Linked DNA regions of Homo sapiens. The protein of the gene in region 6 purifies or fractionates together with the protein of the main gene of each other region. This does not show direct contact. Each region holds a gene or a part of one and is shown on either strand. Other genes may lie near its edges. The genes, in order: RPUSD2, HLTF, OCIAD1, ABHD10, UQCC2, PMPCA and SOST.

Region 1 (3,151 bases), on a different chromosome or scaffold from region 6:
ACGCCTGTAATCCCAACACTTTGGGAGGCCGAGGCGGGCAGATCACGAGGTCAGGAGATCGAGGTCATCCTGGCTAACACGGTGAAACCCCGTCTCTACTAAAAAAAAATACAAAAAATTAGCTGGGCGTGGTGGCGGGCACCTATAGTCCCAGCTACTCGGGAGGCTGAGGCAGGAGAATGGTGTGAACCCAAGAGGTGGAGCTTGCAGTGAGCCGAATCGCGCCACCGCACTCCAGCCTGGGTGACAGAGTGAGACTCTGTCTCAAAAAAAAAAAAAAAAACTTACCCTGGCATGGTGGCACATGCCTGTAGTCCCAGCTACTTGGGAGGCTGAGATAGGAGGATCACTTGGCCATGGGAGGTTGAGGCTGCAGTGAGCCATGAGCATGTCACTGCGTTCCAGCCTGAGCTATAGAACAAGACTCCGTCTCAAAGAAATAAATTAACATAAGAAAATAAAGTGCTGACAGGCTGAGCAAGGCTTTTAAGATTATGGGGAGAGCCTGCTTGGTGAAAAGATTCTAGATGTAGTTGGAAAAGTCTTGGGTAGAGGAGTTTAATGGTAATGATTGTTGTCCTGAGACTTGTAATTCTGGATCTGAATCATAATACATTTATTGAGTGCATGCTATATACCAGGCTTAGTATCAAGCACATTAGAGCCTAACTTACTGAATGCTTATCACAGCCCAATGAGGTAAATGCTTTTCTTTTCTTTTCTTTTTTTTTTTTTTTTTTTTTGAGATGGAGTTTCGCTCTTGTTGCCCAGTCTGGAGTGCAATGGTGTGATCCTGGCTCACTGCAACCTCCGCCTCCTGGGTTCAAGCAATTATCCTGCCTCAGCCTCCCAGGTAGCTGGGATGACTGGCATGCGCCACCACGCCTGGCTAATTTTGTATTTTTTAGTAGAGACGGGGTTTCTTCATGTTGGTCAGGCTGGTCTCGAACTTTCGACCTCAGGTGATCCACCCACCTCAGCTTCCCAAAGTGCTGGGATTACAGGCGTGAGCCACCTCACCCAGCTGGTAAATGCTTTTCTAATTTCACATTTTCTAGATGAGTTAGTAGGATTTAGAGGTTAAGTAATGTACCCAAGATCGCAAAACTGGCGAATGGTAGAGCTGGAGTTTGAATTTTCTGACACTGGTCCTTATCACTCCACAAAGAGTTTGGACTCCATGAATTTAGGCTTTGTACTGACTTTCTCCCTCTTCCCTCCTATGTAGCTGGAGAAGGAGTACGTGTGCCGGGTGGAAGGGGAGTTCCCCACTGAGGAAGTGACCTGTAAAGAACCCATCTTAGTGGTGTCTTACAAAGTAGGGGTGTGCCGTGTAGATCCCCGGGGCAAGCCCTGTGAGACAGTGTTCCAGAGGCTAAGCTACAATGGCCAGTCCAGTGTGGTACGGTGCCGGCCACTCACAGGCCGCACACACCAGATTCGAGTCCACCTTCAGTTCTTGGGCCATCCCATTCTCAACGACCCCATCTACAACTCAGTTGCCTGGGGTCCTTCTCGAGGCCGGGGCGGCTACATTCCCAAGACAAACGAGGAGTTGCTACGGGACCTGGTAGCAGAGCACCAGGCCAAACAGAGCCTGGATGTGCTAGATCTCTGTGAGGGTGACCTGTCCCCAGGACTCACAGACTCTACGGCCCCCTCCTCAGAGTTGGGCAAGGACGACCTGGAAGAGTTGGCTGCAGCTGCCCAGAAGATGGAGGAAGTAGCTGAGGCAGCCCCTCAGGAGTTGGACACAATAGCCTTGGCATCAGAGAAGGCAGTTGAAACAGATGTCATGAATCAAGAGACAGACCCACTCTGTGCAGAGTGCCGGCTGGTGCGACAGGATCCCTTGCCCCAAGACCTTGTGATGTTCCTACATGCCCTACGCTATAAAGGGCCAGGCTTTGAGTACTTTTCACCAATGCCTGCCTGGGCACAGGATGACTGGCAAAAGGACTGAGGGTGTGGCCAATGGAGGGATTGCTTCTTGGGTTGTGACAAGGATGGGCTATAGGGCAAGGGCTGACCCCATGGGCTAGTACTTGGGGTTTCTATAGGAATGAGGACGGGCTTCTAAAGAGACCTGCTCATACTTGCTACCTCCTTCCAGTGGGAATTTGGAGACTTTTTGGTTTGTAAATATATCCCTTTTTCTAACATCTTTGATGTCTGGTTTTCTTCCGGCTTCTTTTTTATTACTGATGTAAAATTCACATAACATAAAATTAACCACTTTAACTAGCCAGGCACAGTGGCTCATGGCTATAATCCTAGTACTTTGGGAGGTAGAAGTGAAAGGATCACTGGAGGCCAAGAGTTCAAGGTTAAAGTGAACTGTGATTGTGCTGCTGCACTCCAGAGCCTAGGTGACAGAGTGAGACCCTGTCTCTTAAAAAAAAAAAAAATTAACCAATTTAAGATGTACAGCGTAGTCACATTTAGTACATTCACAGTGTTGTACAACCATAACCTCATATATTTCCAAAACATTTTCATCACCCCAAAAGGAAACCTGTACCCATTAAGTAAGTGGTCACTTTCCACTCCCCTTCCACCAGCCTCTGGCAACCACTAATCTACTTTCTGTCTGTTTGGATTTGCCTGTTTATTCTGGACATTTTATATAAATGGAATGATAAAACATGTGACCTATGTCTCTGTTTCCCTTGGCATAATGTTTTCAAGGTTTATTCAACTTGTAGCATGTATCGGTACTTCATTCTTTTTTTATGGCAGAATAAGCTGTTGTATGGATATACCACGATTTGTCTATCTGTTCATCAGTTAATGGACATTTGGGTTGTTTCCACCATTTCATTATTGTGGATAGTGCTGCTGTGAACATTAAATATGTTTTCAGTTCTTTTGGGTATATACCTCACAGTGGAATTGCTGGGTCATATGGTAATTCTATGTTTAAATGTTTGAGAATCCACCAAACTTTTCCACAGCAGCTGAACCATTTTATATTGCCACCAGCAAGCATAGGGTTTCAATTTCTCTACATCTTCACCAACATTTGTTTTGTTTTGATTATAGTCATCCTAGTAGGAGTGAAGTGGCATCTCATTCTGGGTTGTTAGTCTTTTTGTTGTGGAGTGTAAGTGTTCTTTATATATTCTGGATGTGAGAGTCTTAGCAAAAAGAC
Region 2 (2,453 bases), on a different chromosome or scaffold from region 6:
ATTCATGTTGTTGTGCAACAGCCATCACAATCATCCATCTCCAGAACTTTTTCATCATCTTAAACTGAAACTGTGTATCCATTAAATAATAACTTCCCATTCCTCTCCCCCCAGCCCCTGGCAACTACCATTCTACTTTCTTTCTCTGAATTTGACTACTCTACAAAACCATATAGATATATCGTAATATATTTAACCCATTAAGTTTTTTGCTAATAAAAACAGTGCCATAATGAGCATTATTATATATAAATCTTTTCACATAGATGCAAGTAATTCTTTGGGATAAGTTAAGAAAACTAGAATTCTGGATTTAGAATTTTTATCAACTATCGAGTTGGTTTCAAAATAGGATTTATATGAAAATTGTTAATTTATGCTTCTGTGGCCAAAAAAGTGCTGTTCTAATTTGCATTTACCTAAAACCTTGAGTATATTTCACATATCTTGTTTATTAACATTTTTTCTGTGAATTATTTATATCTTCTGTCCAGTTCTCATAGTTATGGTACAAATAGTTTTATAGTATAAAGGACTCCCTGATACAGTCTGACTTGAAATCTTTTGTTTATGTATGTTGAAAATGGTTTATCCCATACTCTTCCTTGTCTTTAAACTGCATTTTTTTGGTCATGAAAAAGCTTTAAAATTTTTATGATTTAAAACGTCAGCCTTTTTTATACGTTCTAGGTTTTAAGGTCTTACCTAGGACAGAAGGCTTTATTTTCACATTTTTTCAACTATTCTGTATTTACTTCTGGTTCTTTTGGAAGATTTTATTTTTTGTTTTATGATTTGTGACATGAGTCTAAGCTTATTATTTTATCAGATGAAGAACGATTTGTTCTGTCACATCATTTTTTTTCTTTGAAAATTCCAACTTTTTCCCTACTAGTATGAAATGTCACTTTCATCATAAACTAATTTATATATATTACTTGGGTCTTTTTCTAGACTATTCTGTTCCATTGATCTCTTTTCCTTTTCTTAGGGCAGTATTACTCTTATAACAACTATGGTTTCCTAAAGTAAGTTTTGATACCTGATAGGGTAAAATGTTCTGATGACCCTTTTTGAAAATTGTATTGGTGGTTATTATTATTGCTCTTGAATTGAACTTTAGATTTTAGTTATAAAATCCCATTTAAGATATCTTGAGATTTATTGAATTTATTATTACTTTCGAGAACTATCTTTCTTTATAAGTAACGAATGTTTCCATACAGGAACATAGTATCCTTTCTCCATTTATGTAGATCTTATATGTATTTCAGTAAAATTTTATTATATAGCTTTAGTTATTGCAGTAATTGGGTCTTCTTAAACAATGTTAAATAGTAGCAGATAGTGACCATTCTTGACTTGTTTCTGTTTTGTTGTAGAATACTTTTATTGTTTCACATTAAATATGTAAGGTTGAGACATTCATTCCTAGTTGGGGTATTTTAAAATCAAGTTTTTATCAGGAATGAGATGATCACGTTTTATTTTTCTCTTTGTTAGTGTTGTGAATTATACTAAAGATTCATTCTTGAATTTCTGGGAATAGTTTTTTGTTTTTTTTTTTTTTTTTTTTGAGACGTCGCTCTGTCACCCAGGCTGGAGTGCAGTGGCGCAATGTCGGCTTACTGCAAGCTCCGCCTCCCGGGTTCACACCATTCTCCTGCCTCAGCCTCCCGAGTAGCTGGGACTACAGGCGCCCACCACCATGCCCGGCTAACTTTTTCTATTTTTTAGTAGAGATGGCATTTCACCGTGTTAGCCAGGATGGTCTCGATCTCCTGACCTCATGATCTGCCCGCCTCGGCCTCCCAAAGTGCTGGGATTACAGGTGTGAGCCACCGTGCCCGGCCAGAATGGCCTTTTTAATACAATGCTGAAGTCATTTTGCCAGAGTTGCCTATATAGTTTGCTTTTTTTTTCTTTATTGCTTTGCTTATCTTGTGATCTGTAACTTCTATTCGTACAGCCATATTCTTTATATAAGAAAACCATATTGGGTAAGGAAAGCAAAGTTCAGTTCTATTAAATAGTTATTATAGTTTGGTGCAAAAGTAATTGCGGTTTTTGCCATTAGGCAAATCTTTCATTTAGTTTTTTTAATAAAGATTTTAAATACTATGCCTTAAAAACTACTTAACTTTTTTTTTTCTTTTTAAAGTTCATTGTAAAGGACTCTGTTGAAGAAAATATGCTGAAAATACAAAACAAAAAGAGAGAACTTGCAGCAGGAGCCTTTGGAACTAAAAAACCAAATGCTGACGAAATGAAACAAGCCAAAATTAATGAAATCAGAACATTAATTGACTTATAATTTGTGGGATTTTAGTAAGGTCAGTTTGATTGGATACTTAAGTTTTAGAAATGAGAAAAATACAGAGTTTTAGAAATGAGATCTAGAGAACACGTCTTCTAAAAGGGGCATATTTTATATTAGTGAAGAGGTATTACTG
Region 3 (3,500 bases), on a different chromosome or scaffold from region 6:
TAGAAGACAGAATTAATTATAGCACCAAAAAAAAAAACGCTCAAAACCCAGGAACAAATCTAATGAAAGATATGAAAGATCTCTACACTGACAAGTTATAAAACTTACTGAGAATTGAAAGACCCAATATTCTAAAGATGGCAATTCTCCATAACTTCACCTATAAATACAATGCAATCCCAATTAAAATCAAAGTTTTACAAAAATTGAAAAGCTTATTCTAAGAGTCATGTGGAACACAAAGGGCCAAGGCAACACTGAAGAATCGTATTATAGAACTGACTACCACCAGATAGCAAAATCTACATGATAAAGCTGTAGTAATTAAGACAGTCTGGTATTAAGTACAAGAATAGGCAAACTGACCAAAACTAAGAGTCCAGAAACAGATCCACACCTGCACACTTGATTTATGACAAAGACAACACTGCAGCATAGTCCTTTCAAATATAGTGCTGGGTCAATTAATATCCATTAACAGGGGAAAATGTACCTTGATCCTACATCGAACAATAATCCAGATGGCTTAAAAATTTAAATATGAAAGATTTTTTTAAAAAATTTTACAGAAGAAAGCATGAGACCATCTTTGTGTCCTTAGAGTAGACGAAGATCTTAAAGAGTCAACAAAAAGCACCTATTAGAAAGAAGAAACCTGATAAATTGGACTCTATTAACACTGAAAACTACAGTTAAACAGAGTGGGGAAAAAATAATCACCATATCTATATCTGACAAAAGACTCAATTCCAAAGTATACAGAGAAGTCTCACAAAACCAATAGGAAAAAAGACAATACAATGGAAAAATGGTTAACAGACTTAAACAGATACTTCACAGAAAAAGATATGCTGAAATGAAGTATAAACAAATGGAAAGGTCTTCAACTTCATTGGTTACAGGGAAATACAAATTCAAGCCACAATGCAATCAATATTAGTGTTTATTTACCACAATGGCTAAAACATAAAAGACATAAAAATAGCTAGTGTTGGTGAGAATGTAGGAGTATACATTGGTCTAAATAGTTTGGTAATATCTACTAAAGCTAAATAAATATATACAAAATCTATGACCCAGCAAAATGTCTATCAAAAAGGCACCATATTCTTGGCAAAACTAATTGTAACAGTGAAAATTGAAAACTACCAATTATCAATGCACAGTTCAGATAGATAAACTGGTGTATTCACACAGAGGAAAACTATAGGGCAACTACATGCAACAATGTGGTTAAGTGCAATGATGTGCTGGTAAACCAGCACTCCCTATAAAAAGCTCTAATTTTAATGTTTGTCAGTTTCCATGGTGTAAAGCTACCAATTCTTTTTTTTTTTTTTTTGAGACGAGTCTCGCTCTGTCCCCAGGCTGGAGTGCAGTGGCGCCATCTCAGCTCACTGCAACCTTCGCCTCCTGGGTTCAAGCAATTCTCCTGCCTCAGCCTCCCAAGTAGCTGGGACTACAGGTGCACACCACCATGCCCAGTTAATTTTTTGTATTTTTAGTAGAGACAGGGTTTCACCATATTGGCCAGGATGGTCTCAATCACCTGACCTCATGATCCGCCTGCCTCAGCCTCCCAAAGTGCTGGGATTACCGGCATGAGCCACCGTACCCGGCCAACTACCAACACTTTAAAAACCAGCTTGCCAAAGTTCCCGAAAATTTAACAACCAATTCTCAGGAGCCAGTACAAACCAGTTCCAGCATGCTACTGGATGAATCTCACCATGTTGAAAGAACTTACATAAAAGAATATTTCAGTGTATGATTTCATGTAATTAAAGTACAAAAACAGACAACTAATCTGTGCCTTTAGCCTCAGTTCCTTCATTTATAAGAACTGGGATGACAATAGAAAAAGGAAGATGGTAAGAACATCTCTATTTTTACATTAAAAAGTTGTTCCTTCATACTGTCACCAACTAGTTATAGACCACTTACAACATAAAGGTACTACATACTGGATATTAACAGGAAACAGGACACACTCTTTACTCTCATGGAATTTACAGTCTAGAGAGAGAGTTAAGACAAAGATAATAGTGTCATGGTTGCTATTCATCCCCTCAAATATTTGAGTACTATGTGCACTATGTATGTCCTCTGTCAGGTGCTAGAAATAGCTTATTTTCCTAAGGAGAAGTAGCAAGAATGGAAACAAACAGATTTGTTGAAGGTTAACGCAATACTCTTTGTGACATATGGTTGCATTAATTATGCTGGCAGTACAGATGGAGGTAGATAGTTAATAAAGACATTTAAGAGCTAAAAGACATTAATTGGACAAGGCAGATAAGGGATAGATGTGAAGGATAATGTCCCAGTTTCCTGGATAGTACTAACACCACTCAGTCATGAAGGGAAAGGAGGAATTGGTTTTGTGGAAAATGGTTGAGTTCTGTTTGAGGAGCCTATAGAAGGGCCATACATATTATATATTATATCCAAAATATAGTAACACCAACATTTCCCAAACAACTAGACAAAAAAACCCATACAAGAATGTAAGCACCAAGAGTTAATGAATTTTTGTTGTTTAGTGCTATATAACAATGTATAGTACATATCAGACACTCAAAAAACATGAAACAGAGGAATCGCCTGAGGTAGGAGAAAAATCTTAGGAATATGCCATCATGGAAGCCAAGAGAATAGACTATTTCAAGAAAAACTGGTTAAAGTTATGTAACGTTGGTCAAGAACAAAAACTGTCCATTATATTTAAGCAACAAACAGGTTGTTTTTGAAAAGTTTGTTTTTGAACTTTTGAAAAGTTCCAATAAATGGTAGAACATATGGATAGTCTCACACTGACTGCAATGGGTTAAACGAAGTAAAAAGTGAAGGGCTCATTCATGAAGTCTGCCTCTGGCTTCAAATATGAGGCAGTTGGGAGTAGCTGGAAAAACAAATGAGGGAGGATTTTTTTTTCTTTTTAATGTTCTCAAGTTAGAGGAGACCTGAGCATGTTTAAATGGTTTTGGCAGATCAGGAAGAAACAGAAGGAACATCTAAGACCACGTGGAGTATGACACACTGTGGATGAAAGGGGATACAGGCAGCCCTCCATATGTACATGTTCTGCAACCAACTGCGGATAGAAAATATTTAGGAAAAAAAAAACTGCATCTATACTAAACATGTACAGACTTGTTTCTTGTCATTATTCCCTAAACAATACAGTATAACAACTATTTACATAGTGTTTACATAGTCTTAGGTATTATAAGTAATCTAGAGATGATTTACAGTATACAGGCAGATATGCACGTAAACTTTACTAGGCCGTTTTATATCAGAGACTTAAGCTTTTGTGGATTTTGGTATCCTCTGGAGGGTCCTGGAACCAATCCACACAGACACAAAAGGACCACTGTACAAAATGTCAGGGATTTTGATTAAATGCAAAATGTCTTGGTGGATTCCAAATTCTTTTCTTAAAGTCTCTCTCAATTTTTACCTTTTTTTTGAGACAGAGTCTCGCTCTGTTGCCCAGG
Region 4 (3,500 bases), on a different chromosome or scaffold from region 6:
AAAGTTCCACATGGGCACAAGCTTTGTTTCAATGCGTTCCTAGTGCCTAGTTCAGTTCCTTGCGAGTGGTAGGTGCTTAGTGTATATTTAGTGAATTGATGGAAGGGAAGGAGACCAGAATAAAATTCATCATCACCAACCCATCCCTTTCTCCTTCCAACTTCCTAGTTATCTAGGCTCAGTTATCTGTCTGATCTATGAATTTTACCTCTCCTTAAGGGTATCAAATCAATAAAAAATCATGGTGGTATAAAGTATCATACCACACCCACAGGTTACCTAAACTCTAGTCATACTGAACTACTCCTAATTCCCAGTTACACCCTTTTATAACTTAGAGCCTTAGCATGCTGTTCTGCTGCCAAGAACAGCTTCCTCCCCAACCCAAATTCGTAGTCACCCTTTAAGTCATGTCACCTCCTCTGAGGAACTTCACTTGACATATATGCCCCATTTAGTACCAGTCACTTTCTTTTGTATGTACTCAACACTTTTCATATTGTATTGTAATCAAGTTTGTTTTTAAACATTCATCTCCCTCTGACTAGAATGTCAGTTCCTTAAGAGGAGGCTGTTTTATTCGTTTGTTTTTCCAGGCCACAGAATACTGCCTGCCCTATACCATCACCATTCTTTCTCATTTCTTCTTATGTTCATCCCTTTCTTGGTACTTTGGTAAGTCCAGTATCTTGGTGTAGGTGTTTATTTGTCATCTTAGACCTAGACTATCACAGTAGCCTTCTATCTTGTGTCTCTATGACTCTGTCTTTAAATAGAGTCACTATATACATGTCAGTTTTTTTCTTTAACATTTTAGCATTACCTTCAGTGCTCCCTGTGATATACAACATAAACACTTAGTGCTTTGGCCTGTTTTTTTGAACCATTATATTCTGGTCATTTCAGATTGATTTCACAATAAATTTTACAGTAAATTTTTTTTTACTACTAAATTTTACAGTAGTACTCACTTCATCAGGGAATACTACTGCTTTAGACAAATTGATGAACTTACTGTTCCTAAAATAGGTCTATGTTTTCTTATGTGTTTCACATCTCACACTGTTGATTCCTTTACCTGGAATACCTTCTTCCATCATCTTCTTTACTGATATATTTTCCCTTCTTTACTGATATCCTTTCCCAGAGCCTAGTTCAAATGAACCTTTTTGGTGGAATGGCTGGTACAGTAAGTAAGGGATTTATGAGAAATAGGGGAGAGAAGAAATTAAATTTTTCTTTAGGTTTGAAGTGAAACGATTTTGGATCCTTGGGAAATAGAACAGGGCAACTGGTGCAGTCTAAATCAGTTACTGTTTCCCCCTCAATCCAGGGTATGTAAGAGATGGGTAGAAGGGGTGGAAGAAAAAAGGGGGAAAGACACCAACTAATTTTCTCCTTTTCTCTCTTCATAGGTGGCAATTGGATATGGCTGAATGTGGCATCTTTTACAGTTAGCTGCCTTCCAAATATATGGTGAGGATGCAAAATACTTGTACAGCTCCTTCATGAAGGAAAATATAAATACTTGGTGATACTAACAGGGTACCATTAAAAAAATATAGTTAACTCTCACTGAACCCCAATCCAGAGACAAAGATAATCCAAACATATTCAGCACTTTAAAACTTTTAAACAGTAGCACATCTCCATCTTAGCAGCCTCAATAGTCTGGGATGTAGTCCCAAATAAAAATTCTATTACAAATAATTATGAGAGAATACCAGCCTTAAAACCATATGTTATATTCCTGAGATCTGAATCAGTCTTATTTTAGGCATGGTGATAGGACCTTAATAAAACATTTTCATATAGTCATATGTTTTATTTCTTGTGTAATAAACTATTTCATCATTGAAGATCTAAATTTTACAGCAAAAAATCCCAACAAAAGCAACCTGAAAAATTAGAGAATAGAAGATAAAATCTCTTATAATAAAGTGCAATCAATAGTTAACAATAATTAGACTGTGATGAACTTTGATAAGAGCAAATAAAATGGAACTTGTTCAAACTAAATATTTGTAGTTAAGCACTATTCTTTATGAAGGTATACTCACACAGGATCCAAAAATGCAGAAAAGCCACATTATGTCTTATAGGGAGACAGGAACTGGTTATAACTCTCATAGTCTCAAAGCTGAAATTTTAGAACTGGTAAAATGGTGATTTCTCGATTCAAATTTATTCAGTGGCAAAAAAGAAAAGTGATAACAATATTTTTGATATTATGATCTTCTGCTCAGGACAGTCCCCCTCCTTGGACAGCACTTCCCTCCCACCCAAATCTGAATTATTCTTCAACGTTCCTTTATCTATTTCAATCCCACTGTCTCTAACTTTATGCAATTAAGTATACTGTTCTTTTGACACAATCACATTCTGATGAGTATTTCTGCCAAATTTCTAACATGTATTTTATCTTGTGTTTCCCCACCCTGAATGAAAGGTCCTCATAGGCAAGTACAATGTTTTATAATTCTTTGTTATTATGCAGCACTCAGTATAGTGCTAGAGAATCTATTTCCAAAAAGTACTCCAATCTTCAGAATAAGTCAGAACAGATTTTAACATAGTTCTGAGTATGAAAATAAAATAATTCATTAGTTTGGTAAAAGAAATAAGATTAAATCTTATTTAATTTTATAATTGACATAATTGCTGCTAATATATTGAACAGGTAGTCTGAAAGTTTTATATACAGCTGTATTTTCTAGAATTATTGAATGAATGTTTGTGAGTCACTCTTCTAAAAATTTAGATGGATAGATTTTTAGGCTGTTAGTGCTAGAAAATAACTCAGAAGTTATCTCTAGTCCAACCTCCTTCTTTTGATGACAAACTTAGGTCCAATGTTTATTAACTTACTTGTCTTGTCATAGTTATTGCTCGAATTTATTCTAGAACTCATGTTTCTTGAATTCCAGGCTAATCTTCTTTTTACGAAATCATACCATCTCTTCTGGACAGTGGATACTAAACATATAACTGCTACAGGTAGACCTTATAATAACATAAAGTTATTTACTAAAATAACTCTCAGTGTGAAAAATTAGGAATTATAAAATCAAGCTTGAGTTAAGTACCACTTATCCCTATTTATGCTTATACATATTCAGATTACAGGAGAGGGAAGAGAAAACTCAGCAGAAATTTGCATTATGATACTTTTAAATACATGTATTACTTTTAGATAAACAGTGATCAAATAAAGTCCTTAAGTCCCCAGTGGAAAATGATAATATAAGAGACTGTATGAAAGCCAACTAGTATATCTGTTTGTTGTCACATACATTATTGCCTCTAAAGAGCTTAGTTACCAATATTTCCCTTAAGATGTCCTTTTCTGCCAGGGTTGTCAGCGTGGCACAAAGGCCTTTAAAAAAGGTCTTTTAAAGGTTGCTTTTAAAATTACCCTAAATCACAAGATGCAAGTTTACAGACCATTAAAATAATGTATAAAAATGCTGGCATTTACTTCAACTGATTAGAACAGAAGT
Region 5 (3,500 bases), on a different chromosome or scaffold from region 6:
GCCACGACACCAGCTGCAGTGGGAGATGCCACAATAGAAATGTAAGGTTGGAAAGGCGTGCCTAACAAAGGGGGTGCTGGGCAGAGTGGGCTACAGGGACTCAGTGGGGGAGTCCCCGCATGCTCAAGTGGTCAGTGCATGATGGAAGTGAGACAATGCTAGGTTCTGAAGGAAGCACAGCAGAAGGTCAGCAAGCAGAAGGTCAGCAAGCAGAAGGGAGAAGGGCAGGCCTTCCTGGGGGAGGAGATGCCGTCAGCAAGGAAGAGGAGGCAGGAATCCTGTGGGATGCTTCAGGCCAGACCAGTAGATTCTTTTGTTTTTTTTGAGACAGTCTCTCACTCTATTGCCCAGGCTGGAGTGCAGTGGCGCAATCTTGGCTCACTGCAACCTCCGCCTCCTGGGTTCAAGCAATTCTCCAGCCTCAGCCTCCTGAGTAACTGGGATTAAAGGCATGTGCCACCACACCCAGCTAATTTTTGTATTTTTTAGTAGAGACAGGGTTTCACCATGCTGGCCAGGCTGGTTTCGAACTCCTGACCTCAAGCGATCCACCTGCCTCAGCCTCCCAGAGTGTTGGGGTTACAGGCATGAGCCACCATGCCCGGCCTCAGACCAACAGATTCTTTTAGCAAAGGCAAAAAAAAAAAAAATCATCTGAGTTCTCAATCTATGATAAGTGGGGAGCTGCTGAAACTCTACAAGAAGGAAAGAAACATGAAGAAGGCAACATTTAAGATAAAATGTGTAAACTGAGGAGAACCAAGCCAGGACCACAGTTAGGTCCTGCTAGAAAGGAGATGGCCCAGAACACTGAGGCCTTGCCATAGAAAGGGTGATGTAAGTCAATTCTCTGGTGCCAGAGACAGCAGTGCCCCTGCTGGACCTTCTCAGGGAGACAGGCAGCATACAGAGGAGGTGTGGTCTTTTCTCTTGCACCTCTTCTAACTTTCCCTTTACTCTGTCCTTCCTATTATTTATGTATAGTTCTTTATATTTTTCTGCCAAGAATTTTGAAAAGCTCCCCAGAACAAAACTTTCTCTTTTATATTTTTTCCCCCAGAATTCAAATGATGGATTTTTTCCTAACTTAAATCCTTCCTTGGAGAAGGCAGAGCATAAATAAATCAGTAGTAAAGTGGTTTAATAGGCAGCTCCACTGCTGCCTCTCTGTGCATGTCAAATGAGGTCCCTACTTTACAGCAAACAAAAAAGACAATCCATCATTTAGTTCTACCTGACCCATTCCTGCGTTCAGGCTACTCATCATGAGAATGTACACCCAGATACATCAGAAGAGGAAGGATTATGGCCTGAGGAGGTGGCCAGCGTTTGCTGAATAATAAAGTCATTATCTGAGTGGACAGAATGAATGGAAAATATGAGGCTGTGGTCTCCCTGCTGCTGGTCAGCTTGTCCAGGGAAAGTCCCATTAGAATGGAATTCTGCACACATCTGGGCGAACACATCTGGAACATTTCTTCAGCAGGGCACGCACAGCCAAGAGCTAACGCTGGAGTGCAATGGCGTGATCTCGGCTCACTGCAAACTCCCCTCCTGGGTTCAAGTGATTCTCCTGCTTCAGCCTCCCAAGTAGCTGGGATTACAGGTACCCACCACTACGCCCAGCTAATTTTGTGTATTTTTAGCAGAGACAGGCTTTCACCATGTTGGCCAGGCTGGTCTCGAACTCCTGACCTTGTGATTTGCCCACCTCGGCCTCCCAAAGTGTGCTCACTTATAAATTTAACAGACATTCATCGAGACCCTATAGCATGATTGGCCCATCTATGAGCAGGGGACGCTTGGGTGAATGAGTATCTCCAAGGCTGTAGGGAGCAGGGGAGTCAAACTGCCTGGGTTGACTCCTGGCACCATCCCTTATCAGCTATGTGATGTCAGGCAAACCACTCACTCTTCCCCATGAAATACACTTAAAAAAAAAAAAAGTTGCCACAGTTTATCTTTCTCTGTATCTGTACATACATATCCTTCTTCTGATCCACTTGAAAGTAGGAGCATAATGCCCCTTCACCCCATAATATTTCAGTGTGCATTTCCTAAGAACAAGAACATTCTCTTATATAACCACAGTTCAATGATCAAATTCAGGCCACTTAACACCGATACAACACTATTATCTAATGCACAGTCCATATTCCAATTCTGTCAATTGTCTCAATAATAATCTATGGAAAAACAGGATGTCCTGCTGCATTTAACAGTCATGTATCTTTTAGTCTCCTTTAATCCGGGACCGTTCCTCGGCCTTTGTCTTTCATGCACTGAACATTTTTAAAGCATACTGGCCAACTTAACCTTTCTTTTAAAAGAAAATATAATAATAGCCCCTACGTCCCCGGTGGTGTGAGGATAAATGAGGTGACGCTTGGGCTGCTCTGAATTCCGGGCCTGGAACGCCGATAAATGTGAGCGATTAGTTTTTCTCACAGTTATTAGTAGTAAAGAGTTGTAGTAAACACAGGCCCCTGTCTCATAAAATAAGAGGGGAAAGGACAGAACAGTTCAGAACCACCCTGGTGGGAGTGGAATGAAGGGGCATGTACAAGGTGCTATGGGCCTATGGGGCCAGGCAGGAAGTGCTGGACAATGAGTGGCTGAGGATGGGCGCATGTACCGGCAAGGGAGTGGGGTGCTCCAGGCACAGGACCAGGTGGAGCCCGTGCCCAGGGAATGGGTCAGCATGTTACCAGTGGATCAGCATGGCTGGTGTGCACTGCCGAGGGTGGCGCTGGAAACGGAAGTGAGGAAGGATGAAAAACTGCTGAGGCTTCACTCCTGACTGACCCTGGTGGCTCTCAGCAGTCACTGAGCTCTCCATGGTCTGCCGAGAGAGCAGCTGTTTGCTGTACCTGGTCTTCACCTGATGGCCGCTTATCTGGACCTTCCCGTCCTGCCACCATCCCCACCACCTTCCCAACCAAGCTCTTAGGAAAGGAGTCCACAAGCTGATCTGCCTTCCTCCCATAGCCTCTGCCTCTCTCCTGGGCTCCTAACACTGCTTCCTGATAAACCTGCATTCTGACCAGATCCCCACCCTCAAATACCTTTCAACTCAAGTTCCCTTCCTGCTCCAACTTCTCTAGCAGTGAGAAGTCACCAGTAGGTTGCTCAGCAACCTTGTATCACACCCTCAAGCAGGTGTGGTATAAGGTGCTGTCCTTCCTTGCCACGTAGTCCCATCCCTGATGAGCAGCAGGACAGACAGGAGGGGCATGGGGGGCGGGTCACCCTTGCAGAGTGCTGCTCCTATAAGAGCAAAATGTACAAAGTCTAAGTGCAAAAAGCAAAGTGACCCTCAGGTACTCTCACTTCTTTTTTTTTTTTTTTTTAGATGGAGTCTCACTCTGTCGCCCAGGCTGGAGTGCACTGGCACAATCTTGGCTCACTGCAAGCTCCGCCTCCCGGGTTCATGCCATTCTCCTGCCTCAGCCTCCCAAGTAGCTGGAACTATAGGCGCCCGCTACCACGCCTGGCTAATT
Region 6 (3,500 bases):
TAACCACAACTTTATTTCTTGAATGCTTTTTTTCCTGGCCGGGCACGGTGGCTCACACCGGGATCCCAAAGTAATCCCAGCACTTTGGGAGGCCAAGGCAGGTGGATCACCTGAGGTCAGCAGTTCAAGACCGGTCTGGCCAACGTGGTGAAACCCTGTCTCTACTAAAAATACAAAAATTAGCCATGGGGCTGCGTGCAATGGCTCACACCTGTAATCCCAGCACTTTGGGAGGCCGAGATGGGCAGATGACTTGAGGTCAGGAGTTCAAGACCAGCCTGGCCAACATGGTGAAACCCCATCTCTACTAAAAATACAAAAAATTAGCCAGGTGTGGTGGTGGGTGCCTGTAATCCCAGCTACTCAGGAGGCTGAGGTAGGAGAATCACCTGAACCCGGGAGGCGGAGGTTGCAATGAGTTGAGATCATGCCACCGCACTCCAGCCTGGGCAACAGAGCAGGACTCCGTCTCAAAAAAAAAAAAAAAAAACAGAAAACAAAAAACAAAAAAATTAGCTAGGGTGGTGACACATGCCTGTAATCCCAGCTACTCAGGAGGCTAAGGTAGGAGAATCACCTGAACCCGGGAGGTGGAAGGATGCAGTGAGCTGAGATCATGCCACTGCACTCCAGCCTGAGCAAGACTCTGTCTAAAAAAAAAAAAAAGTGTGTGTATAAAACTTGCTTATTTGTACCACTTCTGGTCCAGGAAGTAACGAGGTTCCCAAATGTGTAAAGCATCAAAAACTAAGCTTAAAAAATTAGTAAACAGGGACGCATGGTGGCTCACACCTGTAATTGTAATCCCAGCACCTTGGGAGGCCAAGGCAACGGATCACTTGAGGTCAGGAGTTTAAGACCACCCTGGCCAACATGGCGAAACCCCGTCTCTACTAAAAATACAAAAATTAGCCAGGCATGGTGGCGCATGCCTGTAATCCCAGCTACTTGGGAGGCTGAAGCAGGAGAATCGCTTGAACCCGGGAGGTGGAGGTTGCAGTGAGCCGAATTTGAGCTACTGCACTCCAGCCTGGGTGAGACAGTGAGACTCCATCTTAAAAAGAACAAAAAAAAATTGGTAAACAAATACAGTTTCAAACATAGAATGGAGCCAGGGAAAGGCTCGAGACACCCCACGCTGCAGCCCACCTGTGCGAGCTGCTTCACCCCAGTCACCTCACAGAGGCGGCTGAGAAGGACACAAAAACTCCTGCAGCGTTTCGCCAGCAAAGCTGAGAGAGTCACATGGTCAGTCCCACGACTCACCCAGTGGCTCAGAGAAAGAAGTAGTGGACCGAGCACTGGGGGAGGGCGGTGGTCTGTTTTTCTGTTTTCGGGGTTTGGACCAGGGAAGAACAGCCTCAGCGGGCTCCCAGGTGGAGCAGCTCAGCCCCAGGCTGTGCCTCCTTGGCCGCCCTGCCCTGCCCTGCCCTGCCGGGACCTTGGCCCTGAGGCTCAGGGACCAGGCCCACAGGTGGCCACTCCTACAACGTGGCTGTCTCCTGTCAGACACCACAGGTACGCCTGGAAATGGCGCCACACTGCACTTACCGTGTCCACGGTTCCGCCCATTAAAATAAACTCCTTTGTGATGATTTCTACCATTTCTCGAACCTGCGAAGAAGGGCAAGACGATAACAGTGTGGCCTGCGCCTGCCGGCCTACTGACCCGTCTAGGCAGGGACGCCCAGGTCTGGACAGGCAACCGCACTGAGGACGGTGGCAGGCGGGGCCCTCACCTGTCTTGGGTCGGCGCTGGCATGGATGCAAAGGAGGCCAGTGTCCTCGTAGCTGTGGTGGTAGGAGGTCGCGTTATACATCCAGTGGTGCCTGGGAGGAAGCGAGAGTCATGGGAGTGAAGGGGACTCGCCAGGATCAGGCCATGGGAAACTGGAGAAAAGTCACCTGGAAGGTGGCCTCATGGTCCAAAAACACACCTGGCCTGGCCTGGTGGCCTGAGGATACAGAAAAGAGTGCAACCCACCTGTTGAGCACGTTGAGGTAGAGCCTGGAGAACATGCCCTTGCCGGGCCCACCAGCCGAGAAGGAGCCACCTCCGCCCATCATCATGTTCAACACTGCAAAGGGGATGAAGTCCTCCTCCTGCAGGGACGGAGGGCAGAGCTGGCTGAACCACCCACGCCACGTCAGGAGCACCGTCAGACGCCAGGGACGGAGGGCAGAGCTGGCTGAGTCGCCCAAGCCACGTCAGGAGCGCCGCTGGACGCCAGGGACGGAGGGCAGAGCTGGCTGAGCCACCCATGCCGCGTCAGGAGCGCCGTCGGATGCCAGGGACAAAGGGCAGAGCTAGCTGAGCCACCCACGCTGTGTCACGAGCGCCGTCAGACGCCAGGGACAGAGGGCAGAGCTGGCTGAGTCGCCCACACTGCATCAGGAGCATTGCTGGATGCCAGGGACAGAGGGCAGAGCTGGCTGAGCCGCCCACGCCCCATCAGGAGCGCTGTCGGATGCCAGGGACAGAGGGCAGGGCTGGCTGAGCCGGCCACACTGCATCAGGAACGCCATCAGACCCAGCACCAGGACTCACCAGGAAGGAGCAGCTCTCCAGTCCAACCATGATGTGCGTGAGCTCGGGGATGGGGGTCGGGCCCAGGCTGACATTGGACATGTCTCTTTCTAGCTGTAACCAAGAAAACAAGCAAGTGTCGCCATGTGAAAAACAATGAGGGCTCGCAAACCCCAGATGAGATCATCTTCAGAGTGGTTACACAGAAATCCAATGCCAGCCAGGCACAGTGGCTCATGCCTAAAATCCCAGCACTTTGGGAGGCCAAGGTGGGCAGATCACTTGAGTCCAGGAGTTCAAGACCAGCCTAGGCAATGTGGCAAAACTCCACCTCTACCAAAAAGACAAAAAAAAAAAAACATATGTATATACATATAAGCTGGGCGTGGTGGCTTACGCCTGTAATCCCAGCATTTTGGGAGGCTGAGGCAGGTAGATCATGAGGTCAGGAGTTCGAGACCAGCCTGGCCAACATAGTGAAACCCCATCTCTATACAAAATTTAGCCGGGCGTGGTGGTAATCCCAGCTACTCGGGAAGTTGAGGCAGAAGAATCACTTGAACCTGGGAGGTGGAGGTTGCAGTAAGCCGAGATTGCACCACTGCACTCCAGCCTGGGTGACAGAGCGAGGCTCCATCTCTAAAAAAAAAAAAAAAAAATGCAACACGCAGTGGCAGACCCACTCCCCTAGAGAAAGAACCGCATCCACCTTTTGTGTTGCTCTCAGGCCTAGCAGCACTCATTCTCAGCAGGGGACACAGTCCATGCCCTGCTGTGGGACTACAGCATGTGTTAAGGCAAAGCTACACATGCAGTCAACACCTATCACCCTCAGAATCAATACAAAAACAGGTCACACCACGGGCCAGGGGACGTGTTCCCCACCCGAGGCCATGAGACGTTCCCGCTACTTCACCTTGGCAATCCCCCCAGTGTACTGGGCCACAGATCTGTCAATATCCACGGCCTCTGC
Region 7 (2,554 bases), on a different chromosome or scaffold from region 6:
TAATGTGAATCCTAAAGAAAGAGGATTAGTTATTGGGGGTGCTAAGTGTGGATGGCAAACTAAGGAAGCAGGGATCTGCATGACCATTTGGAGTCAGTAGGAAGCTTGGTGGAGTGGGAGGTGGGAGTCAAGCAGAGAAGGCCTCCCATGTCAGATAGGGAAACTGCACTTGATCCTGGGCAAGGGGGAGCTATGGAAGGCTTTTGAGCAGGGGAGTGATACAATGAGAACAGCATTTTGGAAGCCAGCATGGAGGGGAGGCTGCTAAAAGGATACAAGGCTGAGGTTATTACCATGCCCTGGGTGAAGAAATGCGGTCTGGGTTTGGAAAGGAAGGGATAAACATGACTTTTCAAAGGAAGACATAATTGCCACAAGGGCCACCAGAGAGCAGTCAAAGGTGTGTCCAAGGTTGGAGCTCTAGTGACCAAGAGAAGGGTGTCAACTTTGACAGAAATGACGTCATGTGTGGTTGACAAAATGAGACCACATCCTTTCGGTCATGATTCATTGTCTTTATTAACAATGTCTCTGGACTCTGGAAGAACAGACTGTTAATTCATAAAGCAATATTAACATTGTCATTCTCTACAAGAAAAACTTTTGCATAAATAACTTAAGTGAGAAAATAAATATGTAACTTAACTCTTTAAAAACCACTACTTTCATTCTTGTGGACAAGTCCCACGTGGAAGAATTGCCAAAAAAACGACCAGTCCTGCAGGCTTTCATATGTCATGTGCTTCTGTTTAAAACTTTTTTTTTTTAACAATTAAAAACTACACAGAAAGTAAGAGGTTGTCTGGAAATGATTTTCAAAAAGATTTTTGGGTGGCAGTATTATGCTCTGCAGTTTCTCAGCATATGTACAGCACTTGTAGTTTTTCCCCCAATAATATTCTTTTAGTGTAAGATATGCCATCACATGTAAGAGCAGTAAGAAGCTGTTTTCTAGGCAGAAATGTGTCCGTGAGTGGTGGGCAGAAGGCGGTGTCTCAAAAGGGATGTGCTGGTCTGTGAGTTTGTGATGGCTGCTCCCTCGGGCCTGCAAGGCCAGTGTCCTTGAACCTTTCACTTCTCTTCGGAAGGTGACTTTAAAACATGGCTATGGGTCGGGGGAGGGATGCTGCTCTTTGGGAAGTTGGGGCGGATGTGATTTCTATCCCTCCCACCACCCTCGGACCCTCTCCTTTTCTACCCCAATGGATGATGTTATTTCTTTGAGATGGAGGGGTGGAGGTAGCCAAACATCCGGGGAAGCCAGGCTGGGAAGCAGCATAGCTTCTTCCAGGAGTTTGTCAGCCGTAAATATGTCAGCCATAAATAGACTCTTTACTTTTTTTTTTCTGTTTGTTTTTCATCTTTGGCTGTCAGAAGAGAGCATCACAACTCTGAATTCTGGAAGTGACCTTGGCACTGAATCAATGCAACTGCATTCATTCTCTCTCTTTCTCTCTCTCTCTCTCACCTCTGCCCATTCAAAAGGCACTGGAGTCCTTGGAATCATATGCCAATAGTCTCCTCGAGATCCTATTCCCACCTCCACCCTCATTTTACAAAGTGGAAATTGAGGTCCCGAAGGAGAATTGTGTAGTTCAAGGTTACACAGCAAGTTAGTGGCAGAGCCAGGACTAGAAACCACATCTACAGTTGCCCCCAGTCTTGTGCTCTGGGCACGCCTCAGGCTTTCTGATGGGCAGCGAGGTGCAAGGGGGAATCTTATCCAACTTTCTTAACCAGTCCCTGGACTTTCCCACTCCCACACCGCTCCCTTAAAACCCCAGGGCGGTGAAAATGCTTCCATTTCTGCCTCCTCTGAAGTGGGACCAGCAAAGGTAGGCGGCCCCAGAGGCGGGGCTGCGTGGCTCAGTGTCTGTGACTCTCAATTCCCTCCCCTGCCCCGTGGGACCCCTCAGCTGGCGGGCTGAGGGGGGCCTTGCCGGCGCCCGGGATTCCTCAGGGCCTGGAAGGTCTCAGCCCCCTGCCCTGGGTTGCAGGCATTTACAATGAAATATAAACAATCAAACCACGCGCAGAGGACAGAAATGTGGGGCGCGGGTTCAGGGCCGGGGCGCCCGCCGGTGGGGAGGGGCGCGGGCGGGCTCTAGTAGGCGTTCTCCAGCTCGGCCTGGTTGGCTTTGGCGCTCCGGGCGCGGGGCCGCGGCTTCCGGCCCTTCTGCGGCCGAGCGGCCTCGGTCCCGAAGTCCTTGAGCTCCGACTGGTTGTGGAAGCGGGTGAGGCGCTTGCACTTGCACGAGGCCACCAGGCGCACCTTGCGCGCGCGCGGCGCCTCACCACCGGGACACAGCAGCTGCACGCGCTGCGCGCGGTAGCGGTCGGGGATGCAGCGGAAGTCGGGCCCACTAGGTCGCCACCACTTGCCGCGGCCGATGGCGTTGGGCAGCAGGCGCGCCGGGCCGCACTGGCCGGAGCACACCAGCTCGGTGACCGGCTTGGCGCTGCGGCACGGCCCATCGGTCACGTAGCGGGTGAAGTGCAGCTCGCGGCAGCTGTACTCGGACACGTCTGTGGAGAGAGGCGCGCGTGAGGGTGG

Evidence for each region.
Region 1: the proteins of PMPCA (region 6) and RPUSD2 purify together in Homo sapiens (affinity purification with mass spectrometry; 2 studies listed by BioGRID and IntAct, with this or other methods). This does not show direct contact.
Region 2: the proteins of PMPCA (region 6) and HLTF purify together in Homo sapiens (affinity purification with mass spectrometry; 2 studies listed by BioGRID and IntAct, with this or other methods). This does not show direct contact.
Region 3: the proteins of PMPCA (region 6) and OCIAD1 purify together in Homo sapiens (co-immunoprecipitation; one large-scale study listed by IntAct). This does not show direct contact.
Region 4: the proteins of PMPCA (region 6) and ABHD10 fractionate together in Homo sapiens (co-fractionation; one large-scale study listed by BioGRID). This does not show direct contact.
Region 5: the proteins of PMPCA (region 6) and UQCC2 purify together in Homo sapiens (co-immunoprecipitation; one large-scale study listed by IntAct). This does not show direct contact.
Region 7: the proteins of PMPCA (region 6) and SOST purify together in Homo sapiens (co-immunoprecipitation; one large-scale study listed by IntAct). This does not show direct contact.

The regions. Positions count from the first base shown.
Region 1 is NC_000015.10:40,572,299-40,575,449, forward strand, and holds the end of RPUSD2 (pseudouridylate synthase RPUSD2), read left to right. Parts: intron 1-1,228; coding exon 1,229-1,963; 3' UTR 1,964-2,651; downstream 2,652-3,151. UniProt on the Homo sapiens protein: Pseudouridine synthase that catalyzes pseudouridylation of mRNAs.
Region 2 is NC_000003.12:149,032,081-149,034,533, reverse strand, and holds part of HLTF (helicase-like transcription factor), read left to right. Parts: intron 1-2,161; coding exon 2,162-2,314; 3' UTR 2,315-2,453. UniProt on the Homo sapiens protein: Has both helicase and E3 ubiquitin ligase activities. Possesses intrinsic ATP-dependent nucleosome-remodeling activity; This activity may be required for transcriptional activation or repression of specific target promoters.
Region 3 is NC_000004.12:48,844,588-48,848,087, reverse strand, and holds part of OCIAD1 (OCIA domain-containing protein 1), read right to left. Parts: intron 1-3,500. UniProt on the Homo sapiens protein: Maintains stem cell potency. Increases STAT3 phosphorylation and controls ERK phosphorylation. May act as a scaffold, increasing STAT3 recruitment onto endosomes. Involved in integrin-mediated cancer cell adhesion and colony formation in ovarian cancer.
Region 4 is NC_000003.12:111,982,026-111,985,525, reverse strand, and holds part of ABHD10 (palmitoyl-protein thioesterase ABHD10, mitochondrial isoform 1 precursor), read right to left. Parts: intron 1-3,500. UniProt on the Homo sapiens protein: Acts as an acyl-protein thioesterase that hydrolyzes fatty acids from acylated residues in proteins.
Region 5 is NC_000006.12:33,701,701-33,705,200, forward strand, and holds part of UQCC2 (ubiquinol-cytochrome c reductase complex assembly factor 2), read right to left. Parts: intron 1-3,500.
Region 6 is NC_000009.12:136,417,158-136,420,657, reverse strand, and holds part of PMPCA (mitochondrial-processing peptidase subunit alpha isoform 1 precursor), read right to left. Parts: coding exon 3,444-3,500; intron 2,642-3,443; coding exon 2,549-2,641; intron 2,104-2,548; coding exon 1,985-2,103; intron 1,831-1,984; coding exon 1,740-1,830; intron 1,615-1,739; coding exon 1,552-1,614; intron 1-1,551. UniProt on the Homo sapiens protein: Substrate recognition and binding subunit of the essential mitochondrial processing protease (MPP), which cleaves the mitochondrial sequence off newly imported precursors proteins.
Region 7 is NC_000017.11:43,753,238-43,755,791, forward strand, and holds the end of SOST (sclerostin precursor), read right to left. Parts: intron 2,527-2,554; coding exon 2,105-2,526; 3' UTR 501-2,104; downstream 1-500. UniProt on the Homo sapiens protein: Negative regulator of bone growth that acts through inhibition of Wnt signaling and bone formation.